2 separate regions of the Homo sapiens genome follow, and region 1 is linked to region 2. The links come from fine-mapping of genetic effects on gene expression. Tissue or cell type: cerebellum. Region 2 holds a variant in brackets; the other region holds the start of a gene. All regions are shown on one strand. Distances are between the middles of the regions.

What was found. PIP is the estimated chance that this variant, and not a neighbour inherited with it, causes the effect.
Region 1: it holds the start of LMF1-AS1, and the variant in region 2 is fine-mapped to the expression of LMF1-AS1 in cerebellum (GTEx, PIP above 0.99).

The regions. Positions count from the first base shown.
Region 1 is chr16:916,847-924,947 of GRCh38, forward strand. LMF1-AS1 (LMF1 antisense RNA 1) reads left to right here and starts at 4,187. Exons shown (of 2, transcript NR_110946.1): 1 at 4,187-4,321. The region is part of intron 3 of LMF1 (lipase maturation factor 1); the gene reads right to left. RefSeq lists an enhancer at 1-126.
Region 2 is chr16:1,887,651-1,895,751 of GRCh38, forward strand. LINC02124 (long intergenic non-protein coding RNA 2124) reads left to right here and starts at 1,464. Exons shown (of 2, transcript NR_146568.1): 1 at 1,464-1,645; 2 at 2,483-2,784. The variant C/A (reference allele first, on the strand shown) is at 4,531.

The sequences.
Region 1 (8,101 bases), 970 kb before region 2:
GGCAACTAGCCACCTCCCGGGTGTCCCCTCGCAGATCCTCTGAGTGTTGAGCTCCGGGTCTGTTATGGCCATTGCTCTGCACAGCCAGCTCTGGGATCCCCTGAATATTGAGCTCCGGGTCTGTTACGGCTATTTCTCTGCGCAGCGAGCTCTGAGAGCATGAGTACTGCTCAGCGTCGGGGATGGAGACGCCACCCAGGGGCTGCCATGCTGCAAACTCATCTTGAAGGCAGAGCTAAAGTCACGTGTATGGGGCCATCTGCAGCCCAGCACACAGAAGCAATCCTGTGGGGAACCAGGCCCAAAGCCACTCTCATGCCGGTACCATGGGGGACGGGTCACCACCATCTCACCTCCCCCAAGCACATGGGCAACACACAGCCATGGTGTGGCCACGCAGAGCACATGCTGCGCAGGCCCACGTGAAGAAATGCCACACGTGTGCACTGCGGGCGGGCACAGGCCCACGTGAAGAAATGCCACATGTGTGCACTGCGGGTGGGCGCAGGCCCACGTGAAGAAATGCCACACGTGTGCGCTGCGGGCGGGCGCAGGCCCACGTGAAGAAATGCCACACGTGTGCGCTGCGGGCGGGCGCAGGCCCACGTGAAGAAATGCCACACGTGTGCGCTGCGGGCGGGCGCAGGCCCACGTGAAGAAATGCCACACGTGTGCGCTGTGGGCGGGCGCAGGCCCACGTGAAGAAATGCCACACGTGTGTGCTGCGGGCAGGTGCCGTTCTAGGGGCTTGTCCAGGCCCGCTGACCCCTCCGGCTCACTGGAGATGACCAGGCAGGGCTGCCCTCCCCTAAGAGACATGCCTGCCCCCGTACCGGGGCTGTTTGCAGGGGTGCTGGGAGGTCCTGATGTCAGCCCCACCCCAGAGGTGTCCCAGGGGACAGGAGTACTGCTGTGCTCGCCCGGCACCCCCGGCCTCCTCCTGACCGTGGGCTCCTTCCCTCCTCTGGGATTGACCAGGCTGTGTCTGGAGTGGACTGCAGCTCCCTGGCCTGTGGTCACCCAGAGCCAAGCTCTGCACAGGAACCTCCAGAACCGGCCTGAGCTTCACAGCTGCGTCTGCCCGCTGGCCATGTCTCACGTCCTGAGGACGTTTCACAGGAGGGCCGCCCTTCTGCTGCCCGCAAGACATACAGGTGCAGAGCTGGGGACATGGCGTCGGGACGTGGCGCGGGGCGGCTGGCTGGGTTAAACCAGAGATCAGATGGCAAATGGGAGGGCATTTTCTAGTAACCAGACATCTCTGAAAGTGCTGGTTAAGGGCTTTCGTGCTTTAGATAAAATTACGTTAACTGCACGCTCTCAGTTATGAGGAATTTCGTGGACTGTTACATATTTTAAGGCTGTCCGTGGGCGCTGCCGAGAAACAGGAAGTGGCCTCAGTGACCCCTGCGCCCGGCCGCGCGGCTTGTTCGTACTTGGTTGCCGTGACAACCAGACTTCCTAGCCCCAGGTGTCCCTGTGGCTCAGCTCTGTGCAGGTGTCACCAGCTCTTGGGAAACAAATCCGCAGTAATGACCTTAGCTATCTTTATTGGTTTTGGATAAATACGAAAATGCTTCCCGTCCACGGAAATTAGACTTCGCGGCAAAGAGTGTTTAGGATTAATGTGTTCCAAGTATTTCACCTAAGTCAGGCTGGTGGGCACCACACCTGACCATTTCTTTGTCTTTTGTGTCCCGGGCATGAAAAATGGCTGAAGTGTGCCGAGCCTCCAAGGGACTCATGAGACCCCAGAAAAGTGCTGGCCATCGTGGGCTGCGGGGACGTTGTGCCCACGGAGCTGTCCTGGGTCACGGGGTGTGCCTCAAGGGCCCCGGCCCTTCAGGCCTTGAGGCACTCAAAGGCAGCCTGCGTGGCTGAGAAGCACATTTTAAATCACATTTAACTTTGGTTCACTTGGATGTGAATTTAAGTGACCACGCGGGGCCGACGTCCCGGGGCGCACCCCGACTCTCACGCGGGGCCGGCATCCCGGGGCGCACCCCGACTCTCACGTGGGGCCAGTGCCCTGGGGTGCACCCTGACTCTCAGCCAGTCCTGGGGTGGGCGCCTGCTCAGAGACACCTGTGGGATGTGGGTCTCACTCCCGAGTAGCGGTGGGACGAGCTCTCGGCACCTGCTCCTCCCACGGGGCCTCCTGGGCTGGAGCCCGCACAGCACAGTAGCATCCACATCCCTGCTGTGACACCTGTGTGGGCAGTCGGCATGTCGGCGTGGACTCCCAGGCTGCAGAATCAGGTGTTCCCCTCACCACACAGTCTCGGGGGACAGTCTGTTTTCACTCGCGGCTTTTCCAGACCCTCCCCTGACACTCGGCAGTCGGCGTTTCCAGGTGTGCTCAGTGTGGCCAACAGGCACGATCCACCCCACGTGGAGGGTGGTGTGTCCAGGGGCTATGTGAGCTCACACACTCACAGGGAAGGAACGTGGGGGTTGGCACACCTGAGAAGTGGGCGGGAATCACCCCACATGCCCGCGGCAGGGGGCAGGGCAGCCCTGTGGCCTCTGCTTCATCTCTGTCAGGACCTATGGTGGACACACACAGCTCCTGCCCCACCTTCATCACTGCTGAGCCCCCCTGGGAAAGCTCATATCTCCAGCGCTCGCGTGAGGACAGCAGTGCCGGCAGCACCAGGGCACAGGCCCCACAGACAAGGGGCCCGGAGGCCGCTGGGGGCATTCCACCCACAGACCCGCTCTGGACAGTGTGCGCCCTCAGAGGCAGGGAGGGCGTCTGGACCGCAGTCTCATGTGGGTCACTCTTGGGGGCCTCGGGCAGCAGCAACTGAAGGAGGCAGTGATGACCTCAGGCCCACGTCCTGGAGGTCTTGGGGAGAAAGACAGGAAGTGTTTTCCTAGAAACACTGGTGTGCAGAGAGGACTGGGTTTCAGCTACATCATGTGGCAGGGCCGCCCTGGGAGGAGCCTCACGGAGACCCACAGACAGAACGTGGGGGTGAGGGTGAAGCAGCCAGCATCCACAATGGGCTCCCCACCCCACAGCTCCGCCCCGGGACCCCCTTCCTCCGAGGCAGTCAGGCTCCTGCCCCCGGCACCATCCTTCCGGCCTCGGTCAAGACTGCCCGGACACCACCTCCAGGGCCTTGCTGGACAGGACATCCACACTGGCCCCAGCCTGTCGGCCCCCAGCACAACATCTGCACCGGCCCTGGCCCGTCGGCTTAGCCCCCAACACGACATCCACAATGGCCCCAGCCTGTCGGCTCCCAACAGGACATCCACACCAGCCCTGGCCCGTCAGCTGGGCCCCCAACAAGACATTCACACTGGCCCTAGTCCGTCGTCCCCCAACATGACATCCACACTGGCCCTGGCCCGTTGGCTCGGCCCCCGACACGACATCCACACCGGCCCCAGCCCGTCAGCCCCCACAGCACGCACTGCATGTCCACATTCCCCTCTCTACACACCACACCCCAAGCGCTGGCTCCACACGGACGCAGGAAAGCATCAGGACCGGAAAGCACAGGAAAACGTGCTTGCCAGGCAGGCGGGCTGGAGAGCTGAGCAGAGACACAGAGCCTCGGAGGAAGGCCAGGCCCACTCCAGAGCAAGAACTAAAATCTCCAGAGCACAAATGCCCCTGGCTGAGCTCAGCAGCAGAGTGAAGAACGAAAGAAAAGGCAGTGAACACGAAGACATAGCAGCCACAGTGACTCATTCTAGAGATGAGAGGCTTTTAGAAAACACCACACAGAAGCACAGGGCCCAGGAGCTCGTGGAAGGCAGGGAGAGGCCTGATGTCCATGTCCGTGGAGCCACAGGAGAGGAGAAAGAACATGGGGCAACCCCCCCAAATATTGGCAAAAATTATCCAAATTTGGTAAAAAGTAGGCATATCATAGTCAAGAAACTGGCAACGGAAGATAAAATCCCCAAAGCCATCAGAGAAACATAACACGTTACACTGGAACGTCAGGAATGATAGTCGACTTCCCGTCCAAAACGAGGGACAGATGGAGAGAGGGAGCCAGGCGCGGATCCTTCCCCAGGGGCCCCTGCATGCCCAGAGCAAGCATCTGCAGGCATCTCCAGCAGCAAAGGACACCGCTGTTCTCCCCGGGGAGCTTCAGTGTCATCAGAGCCTGAAGGAGGAAGCAACTCGGCACCACGTGGCCCAGAGCAGGCTCGTGAGCTGGCCTCGGTCAGCAGGTCGCCTGGGTCTCTGTCTCAGTGCTCAGCAGGGCGAGGACAGGACAGAACGGGCCCCATCACAGACTGCGCTTAGAAGGAACTCAGTAAAACAAAGACCATTTTCTTCTGGAGGCAACTCAAGGAGGTAAGACTGTGAGTCAAGCGCCTTGGAGGATAAGAAGTCCAGGTAAGTAGAAGGCAGGAGGAAGCTTCCCTAATATCACCTGCAAATCTGCTTCCACTGGGGCATTCTGTTCCCCTTTTCAGACAGCGCAGAGCCCTCCTGCGGTGAACAGTCGCCATAGCCCTTCTTGAGGGGCTGCTGGGTCCAAGACCTCCTGGGTGGGCACACGGACCTGCGCTCCCTGCAGAGACGTGGACAAGGCAGGCCCTGTGGAAAGTTCACCCGCCAGCCAGGCACCGGCACAAAGCCAAACCCCCCGGCGGAGTGTGTGGGGGCAGGGACAAAACGCTCCACGCGTTCTCACAGGGACTCGCCCTTAGAACAAGACAGCTGTATCTCTGTACAAATGCGGGCGGTGACGAGTGGGGATGACGGGACTTTCTGGGGTGACGGCCACTCCCTATACCTTGATGGGGCTCGTGCAAGTTCTTTATGGAGGGAAAGACGCAGTGTGCGGTGAGTTCCAGCTAATGATGTGGGAAGCATTGACACCAGCCCCACCCTGATGTGCGCTGAAGCACCGACGCAGGGACGGGGGACACGGGCGAGGAGACCCACTACGTAACAACGCAGCAAACCCCGTGAACAGAACCTACGGCATCCAGGCGGTCCCCGTGCGGGTTTTACTATACAATTCTTAGGAGAAAAACAAAGGTTAAAAGGTTTGAAATGTAAAAAAGATTGACTACATAGAAAATTTAAAAACAAAACATAAGTAAGAGAATCTACAGAAATAGGCTTAGCCGCTGAGAGGTGTTAGCAAGGTCTGGGCGGAACATTAAAAATCCTGTGAGTGGGCCTGGAAACCAGCGTTCCCCCACAGCTGAGGAGTAAGGGGAGAGAAGCAGCTGTTTATCCCAGATGAGGTCCAGAGAGACGCATTCCAAGCAGCCAACACGGGACAGAGGCGATGAGGGAGGGCGGCCTGGACAGAAAACTTCCAGGCAGATCGGGGCACCCTGTCTCGCAGGCCCAGCCATGCTCCTTGGCAGCAACCACCCAGGGGCTTTCTCACAGGCAGACCAGGGCAGCCTCTGGTCCCTGCACAATCTCGCCTCCGATGCAAGGTGGGAGAAGGCAGCCACCTCCCGAGGGGGGCCACAGAGGGGGTTCTGATCCAGCTGTGAGCTCTCACCCCCAGCCCACAGCGACTGGTAGCCAGGTAGGCAGAATGGCAGGCAGAGCGGCCACTGGGGAACTGATCCAGCAGGACCTGAAGCAGGGAGACAGCACACGGGCGTCCACCTAACGTGGCCAGCCCTTGTGTGGACAAACAGCTGAGAAAAGGCATTACTAACATGGACGTGAAGAAAGTCGCCTCGGTTTTTGGGTGTGATGTGGTGTTGGTGTCGTGTTGTTGCGAAGGCCCTGTCTGAAAGTCGCCTCGGTTTTCTGGTGTGATGTGGTGTTGGTGCGTGTTGTTGCGAAGGCCCTGTGTGAAAGTCGCCTGGGTTTTCGGGTGTGATGTGGTATTGGTGTCGTGTTGTTGCGAAGGCCCTGTGTGAAAGTCGCCTGGGTTTTCGGGTGTGATGTGGTGTTGGCGTCGTGTTGTTGCGAAGGCCCTGTGTGAAAGTCGCCTGGGTTTTCGGGTGTGATGTGGTGTTGGCGTCGTGTTGTTGCGAAGGCCCTGTGTGAAAGTCGCCTCGGTTTTCGGGTGTGATGTGGTGTTGGTGTCGTGTTGTTGCGAAGGCCCTGTGTGAAAGTCGCCGGGGTTTTCGGGTGTGATGTGGTGTTGGTGTCGTGTTGTTGCGAAGGCCCTGTGTGAAGGTCGCCTGGGTTTTCGGGTGTGATGTGGTGTTGGTGTCGTGTTGTTGCGAAGGCCCTGTGTGAAGGTCGCCTGGGTTTTCGGGTGTGATGTGGTGTTGGTGTCGTGTTGTTGCGAAGGCCCTGTGTGAAAGTCGCCTGGGTTTTCGGGTGTGATGTGGTGTTGGCGTCGTGTTGTTGCAAAGGCCTGTCTTCAGGTGTACGAGGAGGCATTTCCAAATGCAGGAATGTGATGCCTGGGATCTGCGTCATGGCAAAACAGCAGGGGCAAGGAGTGTGGGGCGGATGTGGCAGCTGCTAACACTGGCACGGTGCACTGTGGCCTACGAGGGTCCCCAGCTGTCCACAGTTCATTCCTCCCCATTGCGTGGCTTCCTGAACAGCCATGTATTTCCTAACTCTGCCGGCTGAGGGGCTGAGAAGCTGCAGCACCCCAGTAGTAACGGGCACCCCAGCACCCACGTCTTGGTCTCTAAACACCTTCCCCACTAAAGCATCAGGCTTCTCAGGGAAGCCAATAGTCCCGGCTACTCAGGAGGCTGAGGTGGCAGCACAGCTTGAGCCCAGTAGGTTGAGACTAGCCTGAGCAACAGAGCAAGATCCCAGCTCTAAAAAAGAGAAATCCTCCCTAAGAGCACTGCTTTAGAAGGACGTGGAGGAGGGGCTGTGGACTCTGAGCCTTACCCTCAATACAATGAGGTCACCTGCTCCTGGGAACCATCTTAGGATCCCTGGAATGGGCAGAGGGACAAACTCATCAGTGGCCCCCAATCTGGCAGAGTTAACCTGCCCCACAATCTCCAAATCCAGAGGCCTACAAAGCATCTGCTCCAAGCAGTAACAATGAGGTCCTGAGCGGAAATCTTCACAAAGTGGAGAGAAAAAACTGATGGATTGTCCAATGTGTTTGATTCTGTAAAAACAACAGTATTGGAAAGGGTTGACCAGTTGTGCTGGTAAAGTTGGAACAAATGAGTGAGATATGATCAGAGATGAAAAACGAAGCCAATCAAAATAGAAAAGGCAACTATGAACTCCAGGAAAAATGAAGAGTTATTAGAAAAAAAGTTACTATAGTTCACTATTTGGCTCAGCAGTCACAATATTTACAGAGTCAAAATAATGTAAAGACAATCAAACTAATAAAAATTATACTTGTGACACAGCTATACTGATGATGATGAGAAGAACATTAGGGTGTGTGAGGGCAATCCCTGTCGTTCATAAGAGGACATGTATACACAGTGTCTAACCGTGGTATGCGAAGAATAACCCATATAAACCTATCAGTCAGAAAGACAGACAAATACCAGAGTTAAGTGCAGGAAGTGATAAAAGGGTTGTCTGGAGAACAGCATGTGGCTGAGAAGTGGTACGGCAAGGGCTTCTGTTTTTATTATAAGTCGTGTAATACAATTTGACTATTCATGCACATGCCCATTTTTTTTTAATAATTAAAAGAACAATCTTCAGGCCACACTGGCCACAGTGTAATAAAATCAAAGTTGAGAAACAAAAGGCCACCTGTAAAACCCTGAGCATGTGGCATTTTCGAAGCATTTCTCCAGGCTGTCCTTGGTCTAGAGGCATTAGCGCTGAAGGTTATAAAACCACACCATCGGCCACTGTCAGGGGCAGCCGGGGGTCTCAGATGACAGGGTAGGGCAGGGACATACCCAGAAGTGGGTAGCCGCCCTCCAGTTGGCTTTCATTAGCAGAGAAGAAGAGACAGAAAATAGCTGAACCAACTCCAGGCACTGGAAATGATAAACCACTTTCTCCCAGAAAAAGCAAGCAACTACAAGAGGCAAAAACGAATGAGCTAGAGTATATTTTAAAATTCTGATAGATAAAACCAGCTCTTTGAAAAGACCCATAAAGGGGATGATCTATGGCGGTTTAGGCAAGGGAGAGTGAGGAAAAGGAGGAAACAAGTATTGAGGCCCAGGCGGGAGAACGGATGCAGACCTGCTAGGG
Region 2 (8,101 bases):
AAAAAAATAGCCAGGCGTGGTGGTGGGTGCCTGTAATCCCAGCTGCTTGGGAGGCTGAGGCGGGAGAATCGCTTGAACCTGGGATGCAGTGGTTGTAGTGAGCCAAGATCTCGCCACTGCACTCCAGCCTGGGTGACAGAGTAAGACTCTGTCTCAAAAAAAAAAAAATTTAACTGGGAGCCCTACATTTTATCCGACAACCTGGGCTCAGGACCTCCCCCAGCAAGGCCTGGGACGCCCTGCCTCTGTGACTTCCTCACCAAAGCTCAGCAAGCCCAGCATTCTGGATTTCTTCCAGTGCTGGCAACAATTCAAGTTCTTTCCCGGCCCGGGGCCTTTGGGCAGCATGTTCTGTATTGCTGGAACCCTCTTCACATGCCTGGCTGCTTCTCACTCACAAGGTTTCAGCTTAAATGTCTCCTCCTTAGAACGCCCTTTCCTGAGCCAGCTGTGGTGGCGCCCTGTAGTTCCAGCTACTTGGGAGGCTGAGGCGGGAAGATTGCTTGAGCATAGGAGTTCCAGGCTGCAGTGACCCATGATTGCATCACTACACTCCAGCCTGAGTGATAGAGCGAGACCCTGTCTCTAAAAATAAAAAATAATAATTAATTAACTAAAAATTAAAAAGGGCCGGGCAAGGTGGCTCACGCCTATAATCCTAGCACTTTGGAAGGCCGAGGTGGGGGAGAACACTTAAGCCCAGGAGTTTGAGACCAACCTAGGCAACATAGCGAGACCCCATCTCTACAAAATAAGATGTGAAGTTTTCATTTAACATCATCAGTGGATCTTTGGAAACTGACTTTAAGCAAAACAAAGTAAAACAGGTCTTCAGATTAGGTTGTTTGTTGTTTCATTATAATGTTAACAAGGAAAAAAAATAGTTTTTGTTACATGTCGTTTTCCTTAAAGTTGCAGTTTCCAAAAGCCTATAGTGAGGACTGGCTGTAATTAGTGAAGAAGAGGACGTGCTGGATTCGAGCGGGCTCTGCCGCCAACGGCTGATGCTTTAGAAGAAGGACGTGCGAGGTCCAGCGTGGTGGCTCACGCCTGTAATCCCAGCACTTTGGGAGGCTGAGGTGGGTGGATCACCTGAGGTCGGGAGTTCGAGACCAGCCTGACCAACATGGTGAAACCCCGTCTCTACTAAAAATACCAAAATTAACCAGGTGTGGTGGCGCGTGCCTGTAATCCCAGCTACTCAGGAGGCTAAGGCAGAAAATCGCTTGAACCTGGGAGGCGGAGGTTGCAGTAAGCTGAGATTGCACCATTGCACTCCAGCCTGGGTGACAGAGCAAGACTCCATCTCAAAAACAAACAAAAAAATTAAGTTATGTCGAATTATATTTTCCTAGGCATCCAGAACCTTCCAACATGAATTCATGGTAAAGGAAACACCTAAATATTGTTTCTGGCAATCTCCTGTTTTGTAAAGTCTGTGTTAAACTTTTATTCCCCGACTAGCATTGGAATCACTGTAGAACACATAGATTTGGCGTGAGATGGCTTCATTGTGAACGAGTTCCCGTTTATTGTGTCAAAGTCAAGCCATTGAGCAGCCAGGTACGGATGGGCCAACTGCCGAGCCACGGTGGAGAAGGTGGAGAAGAGCGATGGAGTTCTCAGCGAAATCAGAGCTGCCTCGGTGGGTTTCGAATCAGAAATTCCTAAGGGTAACCCTACAGTGAGTGCATAAAGCCACTCAGTGTAATCAGTAGCGTACGACGTCTGTACAATTTGCATAAGATGCACAAGTTGCAATTTGGTTTCAGACTTTTTGTTTCTTTCTTTTTTTTTTTTTTTTTTTTTGAGTCAGGGTCTGGCTCTGTTGCCCAGGCTGGAGTGCACTGGTGTGATCTCGGCTCACTGCAACCTCTGCCTCCTGGGCTCAAGCCATCCTCCCATCTCAGCCTCTCAAGTAGCGGGGACTACAGGCACACACCACCACACCTGGCTAATTTTTGTATTTTTTGCAAAGAAAGGATTTTGCCATGTTGCCCAGGTTGGTCTTGAACCATTGAGCTCAAGCTATCCTCCGGCCTCAACCTCCCAAAGTGCTGGGATTACAGGCATGAGCCACCACGCCCAGCCTGGTTTCAGACTTTTATAAATAACGTGTGTATTATTTCCTCTAAATAGCTTGATTGTTTTTCTTTCCTTTTTTTTTTTTTTTTTTGAGACGGAGTCTCACTTTGTCACCCAGGCTGGAGTGCAGTGGCGCGATCTTGGCTCACTGCAGCCTCAACCCCACAAGCTCAAGCAATCCTCCTGCCTCAGCCACCTGAGTAGCTGAGACTACAGGCATGCGCCATCACACCCGGCTAAGTTTTATATTTTTAGTAGAGACAGGGGCTTCACTATGTTGGCCAGGCTGGTCTCGATCTCCTCACCTCAAGTGATCCACCCACCTCGGCCTCCGAAAGTGCTGGGATTACAGGTGTGAGCCACTGCACACAGCCCTAAATTGGGTTTTTTGTTACAGGTGGATGGAGCTGAATTCCTGAGGAAAAGCTCAACTCAGTTATGGACGGATCTTGTTCCTCCCTATCAGGGGATCCCCAAGGAGAACGCTTGGCGTGTCCTCCTTTGGTCCAGCCTGGGTTGCAGCTTCGATGCTCCCTCTGTGCAGGGGGGAAGGTACCTGCAGATTGCCCATCTGTACCCCAGGATTTAGGGGACACCTGATGAGGTATTTGTGTTTAATCATCATCTTGATGCGGACGCTTTTAGGAACAAGGACTGAGACTGGGAGGGATTATAAATAAACACTCAAATGACAGGAAATCTTCAGCTGTCTTCCACCATCACTCTTCTAAAACATTAGTGCTTCATCTCGATAACGAAACAATGTCAGTGCATCCTGAGAGCATGTGGCTCACGTCTGCATTCGAGGCTGTGCACATTTAACCAGGCTGTTTTGAATATTAGACTCTTTTATCAGATCTTCCGACCATCCGCTTTCTGCTGCTCACAGACCTTAGGTTTCAGAGAAAAGGCTCCTGGATTTCAACGCAATCCATTATCTTCTGTGGACACATGAGGCAAGCAACCTATGGGAGACTTTTTTCTCTTTTTTCTTTTTTCTTTGCCTTAAAAAAAATCTTTTGTTGGAGCTTGCTTCACTAGTAGGAAAGCTGACACCTGTGTAGACAGGTTGTCTGCACCCACTCACAAATTCATTCATGCGTCATGTGCTTTTTGGAGCCGGCATTGCCCTCATCTTTGAGGAGCTCACAATTGGAAGGGAGGGGAGTATCCACACGGTGGAGGTCCCCAGTGGCTTAGTTACATTTGGTTGGGGGTTAGGAAGTAGAGCAAACACAGGGCTTGGCTTAGCACTGCTCCCAAGTTGCTGACATTTATTTTTACTAATCGTCCCTTAAAAAAAGAATCAGGAGGCTGGGTGCAGTGGCTCATGCCTGTAATCCCAGCACTTTGGGAGGCTGAGGCGGGCAGATCACCTGAGGTCAGGAGTTCAAGACTAGCCTGGCCAACATGGTGAAACCCCGTCTCTACTAAAATATAAAATTAGCCAGGCGTGGTGGTGCACACCTGTAATCCCAGTTACTCAAGAGGCTGAGGCAGGAGAATCGCTTGAACCCAGGAGGCAGAGATTGCAGTGAGCCAAGATCACGCCATTGCACTCAAGCCTAGGCAACAGAGCAAGACTCGGTCTAAAAAATAAAAAAATAAGAATTACACTGGGTATGGTGGCTCACACCTATAATCCCAGCACCTTGGGAAGCCAAGACAAGAGGATCACTTGAGCCCAGGAGTTTGAGACCAACCTGGGCAACATAGCAAGCCCTCATCTCTTAAAAAAAGTTAAACTTTAGCCAGGCATGGTGGTGCACACTTGTAGTCCCAGCTACTTGGGAGGGTGAAGTGAGAGAATCGTTTGAGCCCATGATTTCGAATTCCACATGATCAATTGCAAACTGACTTTTTTTTTTTTTTTTAGATGGAGTCTCACTCTGTCTCCCAGGCTGGAGTGCAGTGGCGCGATCTCAGCTCAATGCAACTTCCGCCTTCTGGGATCAAGCGATTCTCCTGCCTCAGCCTCACCAGTAGCTAGGATTACAGGCACCCGCTACCACAGCCGGCTAATTTTTGTATTTTTAGTACAGATGGGGTTTCACCATATTGACCAGGCTGGTCTCGAATTCCTGACCTTGTGATCCGCCTCCCTCGGCTTCCCAAAGGGCTGGGATTACAGGCGTGAGCCACTGCGCCCGGCCACTGATTTGTTGTTGATGTTGTTGTTGTTATCAGTGTTTTCTTTTTTTTCATTATTATTATTATTTATTTTATTTTATTTTATCATGCTTTAAGTTTTAGGGTACTGTACTGATTTTATACCCAACTCATTCCAGGATTCTTGCAACACACTATGCTGATGTACAAAGATGAATAAGACATGGTCTCGGCCGGGCACGGTGGCTCACGCCTGTCATCCCAGCACTTTGGGAGGCTGAGATGGGCAGATCAGGAGGTCAGGAGATCGAGACCATCCTGGCTAACACGGTGCAA[C/A]CCCGTCTCTATTAAAAATACAAAAAATTAGCCAGATGTGGTGGCACATGCCTGTAGTCCCAGCTACTCGGGAGGCTGAGGCAGGAGAATCACTTGAACCCAGGAGGCAGAGGTTGCAGTGAGCCGAGATTGTGCCACTGCACTCCAGTCTGGGCGACAGAGCGAGACTCCATCTCAAAAAAAAAAAAAAAAAAGACATGGTCTTACTGATCAGAGGGTAAAGCAGGGAAAATTTGGGTTGCCCCATCATCGAGCATCAAGTAGCATTCCTGGGACTTGTATGCAAAGACGAGAAAGCCTGGGAGATGTGATGTGCAGATACAGTATGGGCTGTGCTGGCTTGTGGAAAAAGACAGAATAGCTGGGTGCAGTGGCTCACATCTGTAATCCCAGCACTTTGGGAGGCCGAGGTGGGCAGATCACCTGAGGCCAGGAGTTTGAGACCAGCCTGGCCAACATGGCAAAACCCCATCTCTACTAAAAATACAAAAATTAGCCTGCGTGGTGACGAGTGCCTGTAATCCCAGCTATTCGGGAGGCTGAGGCAGGAGAATCAATTGAACCCGGGAGGTGGAGGTTGCAGTGAGCCAAGATCGTGCCACTGCACCCCAGCCTGGGCAACAGAGCGAGACTCTGTCTCAAAAAAAGAAAATGAAAAAGACATGCTTAAATTTTAGCTTCCATTTCTCATCTTCTAAAGCCATGCTTCTCAAACATGAGTGAGCAGACCCAGGAATCTTGTTAAAATGCGGATTCCGATTCAAGGGGCCTGGGAGGAGCCTGAGGTCCTGCCTTTCAAACCAGCTCCCAGATGGGGCTGATGCTGACACCAGTAAACTCCCTTTGCACACAAGCCTGTTTAGGCTGGGTCTTCTCCAATTTGCACACACAGTATCCCAGCTATGACATTCAGAAACATCAAGCTTGTTCTTTCCTGCCCCTTGATGCTGCTTTTTGTTCTGTGTCTTCTCTTGAGCCCCTTGGTGGTGCTTTTTGTTCTGTGCCTTCTCTTAAGCCCTGCCCTCTGCTTGGAATGCTCTCTGCCACCTCTTCACTCCTCCTCCAGGAAACCTTCCTTGACTGCCTGCTCTCTGCCCTGCGAGGACTCTCGGGAGCAGACTTTGAGGAGCAGGCTCCAGGGCAGAGGTTCTTGGCCTTGGCTACAAATTAGAATCACCTGGGAGCTTTAAACCACCCACTGTCACACCCCAGACCAATAGAACCAGAATTTCTAGGAGTGGGACCCAGCACCGGTGTGAGAAGTAGGTCACAGGTGTCTCTCATGCACAACATTTACAAAGTATCGACGGCATCTGATGTCTCCAAACCAGTTGGTAAAATTCACTGTAGCAGTTCATCACAGTCAGGTGCCGCGGCTCATGCCTATAATCCCAGCACTTTGGGAGGCTGAGGCAGGTGGATCACTTGGAGCCCAGGAGTTCAAGACCAGCCTGGGCAACATGGTGAGACTCCCATCTCTACAAAAAACACAGAAATTAGCCAGGCGTGGTGGTGCACGCCTATTGTCCCAGCTACTCAGGAAGCTGAGGTGGGAGAATTGCTTGAGCTTGGGAGGTGGAGGCTGCAATGAGCCGAGACTGCACCACTGCACTCCAGACTGGGTGACAGAGCAAGACCCTGTCTCAGAAAATAAAATAAAATTTAATTTTTTTAAAAAAAGGCCAAGTGTGGTGGCTTACACCTGTAATTCCAGCACTTTGGGAGGCTAAGGCAGGCAGATCACTTGAGGTCAGGAGTTTGAGACCAGCCTGGCCAACATGGCAAAACTCTGTCTCTACCAAAAATATAAAAAATTAGGCAGGCGGCTGGGCGTGGTGGCTTATGCCTGTAGTCCCAGCACTTTGGGAGGCCAAGGCAGGCGGATCAGGAGGTCAGGAAATCGAGACCATCCTGTCTAATATGGTGAAACCCCATCTCTACTAAAAATACAAACCATTAGCCAGGTGTGGTGGCTCGTGCCTGTAGTCCCAGTTACACGGGAGGCTGAGGCAGGAGAATCGCTCGAACCCGGGAGGTGGAGGTTGCAGTGAGTCGAGATCATGCCACTGCACTCAAGCTTGGGTGACAGGCAAGACTCCGTCTCAAAAAAAAAAAAAAAGGCCCCAAGGCCCTCATCTGCCCCTTCTGCCATGCGAGGACAGTGAAAAGATGGCCATCGAGGAGGGGGCCCTCACCAGACACGGACCTGCCTGTCCTGGAGTGTGGGTGTCTGGCCTCCAGAGCGTGAGAAAGGCATTTCTGTTGCTTACATACCCCTCAGTTGATCTTGAAACAAGGAATTGTTTAAGGAAGGAATTAGGGCTGGGCACAGTGGGTCACACCTGTAATCCCAGCACTTTGGGAAGCCGGGGTGGGAGGATCACTTAAGCTCAGGGTTTCAAGGCCAGCCTGGGCAACGTAGGGAGACCTCACCTCTACAAAAAATTTAAAAATTAACTGGGTGCAATGGTGCATGCTGTGATCCCAGCTACATGGGAGGCAGAGGCAGGAGGATTGTTTGATCCCAGGAGGTGGTGGCTGCAGTGAGCTGTGTTTGCTCCACTGCACTCCAGCCTGGGCAACAGAGAAAGAGCCAGTCTTTTTTTTTTTGAGACGGAGTCTCACTCCGTCACCCAGGCTGGAGTGCAGTGGCACAATCTTGGCTCACTGCAAACTCCGCCTCCCAGGTTCAAGCCATTCTCCTGCCTCAGCCTCCTGAGTAGCTGGGACTACAGGCACCCCCCACCACGCCCAGCTAATTGTTTTTGGATTTTTGGTAGAGACAGGGTTTTACTGTGTTAGCCAGGATGGTCTCGATCTCCTGACCTCGTGGTCCGCCTGCCTCGGCCTCCCAAAGCGCTGGGATTACAGGCGTGAGCCACTGTGCCCAGCCAGAAAGAGCCAATCTTAAAAAAAAAAAAAAAAAAGTAATTTCCTATCTTTATAAAGGCCATAAAGGTAGGCCTTTATCAGTAGGAAGGAGGCAGAAGAGCCAAGGTCCAAGGGGAGCTGAAGACAGAAGTGCCCCTTTACTCTGATGGTCCTGAAATTAGCCCAGGAGCTCTGGCCAGCAACATGCTTTGGTTCAGGTGCAGACGACTGGGCCCAGCCTGGCGAAAGGGAACTCCCAATGCAGTGAGTAGACTCTGGTGGTGGCCTGCTACCACAGTGGCCTAGCTGGGTTCTAGGCCTGCTCTACCGTGAGCCTCTCCAGTCCACGGAAGGGAGGGGCACAGCTCTCCCTCCACACCCGTCCCAGGAACATCAACTCATTCCATCAACTAATTCGAAAAATGTTCTGGACAATCCGCAGTGGCTCACACCTGTAAGCCCAGCACTTTGGGAGGCTGAGGTGGGTGGCTCACCTGAGGTCAAGAGTTCGAGACCAGCCTGGCCAACATGGTGAAACCCCATCTCTACTAAAAATACAAAAATTAGCTGGGTGTGGTGGTGGCATCTATGATCCCAGCTACTCAGGAGGCTGAGGCAGGAGAATCGCTTGAACCCAGGAGGTGGAGGTTGCAGTGAGCCGAGATCGCACCACTGCACTCCAGCCTGTGCGACAGAGCAA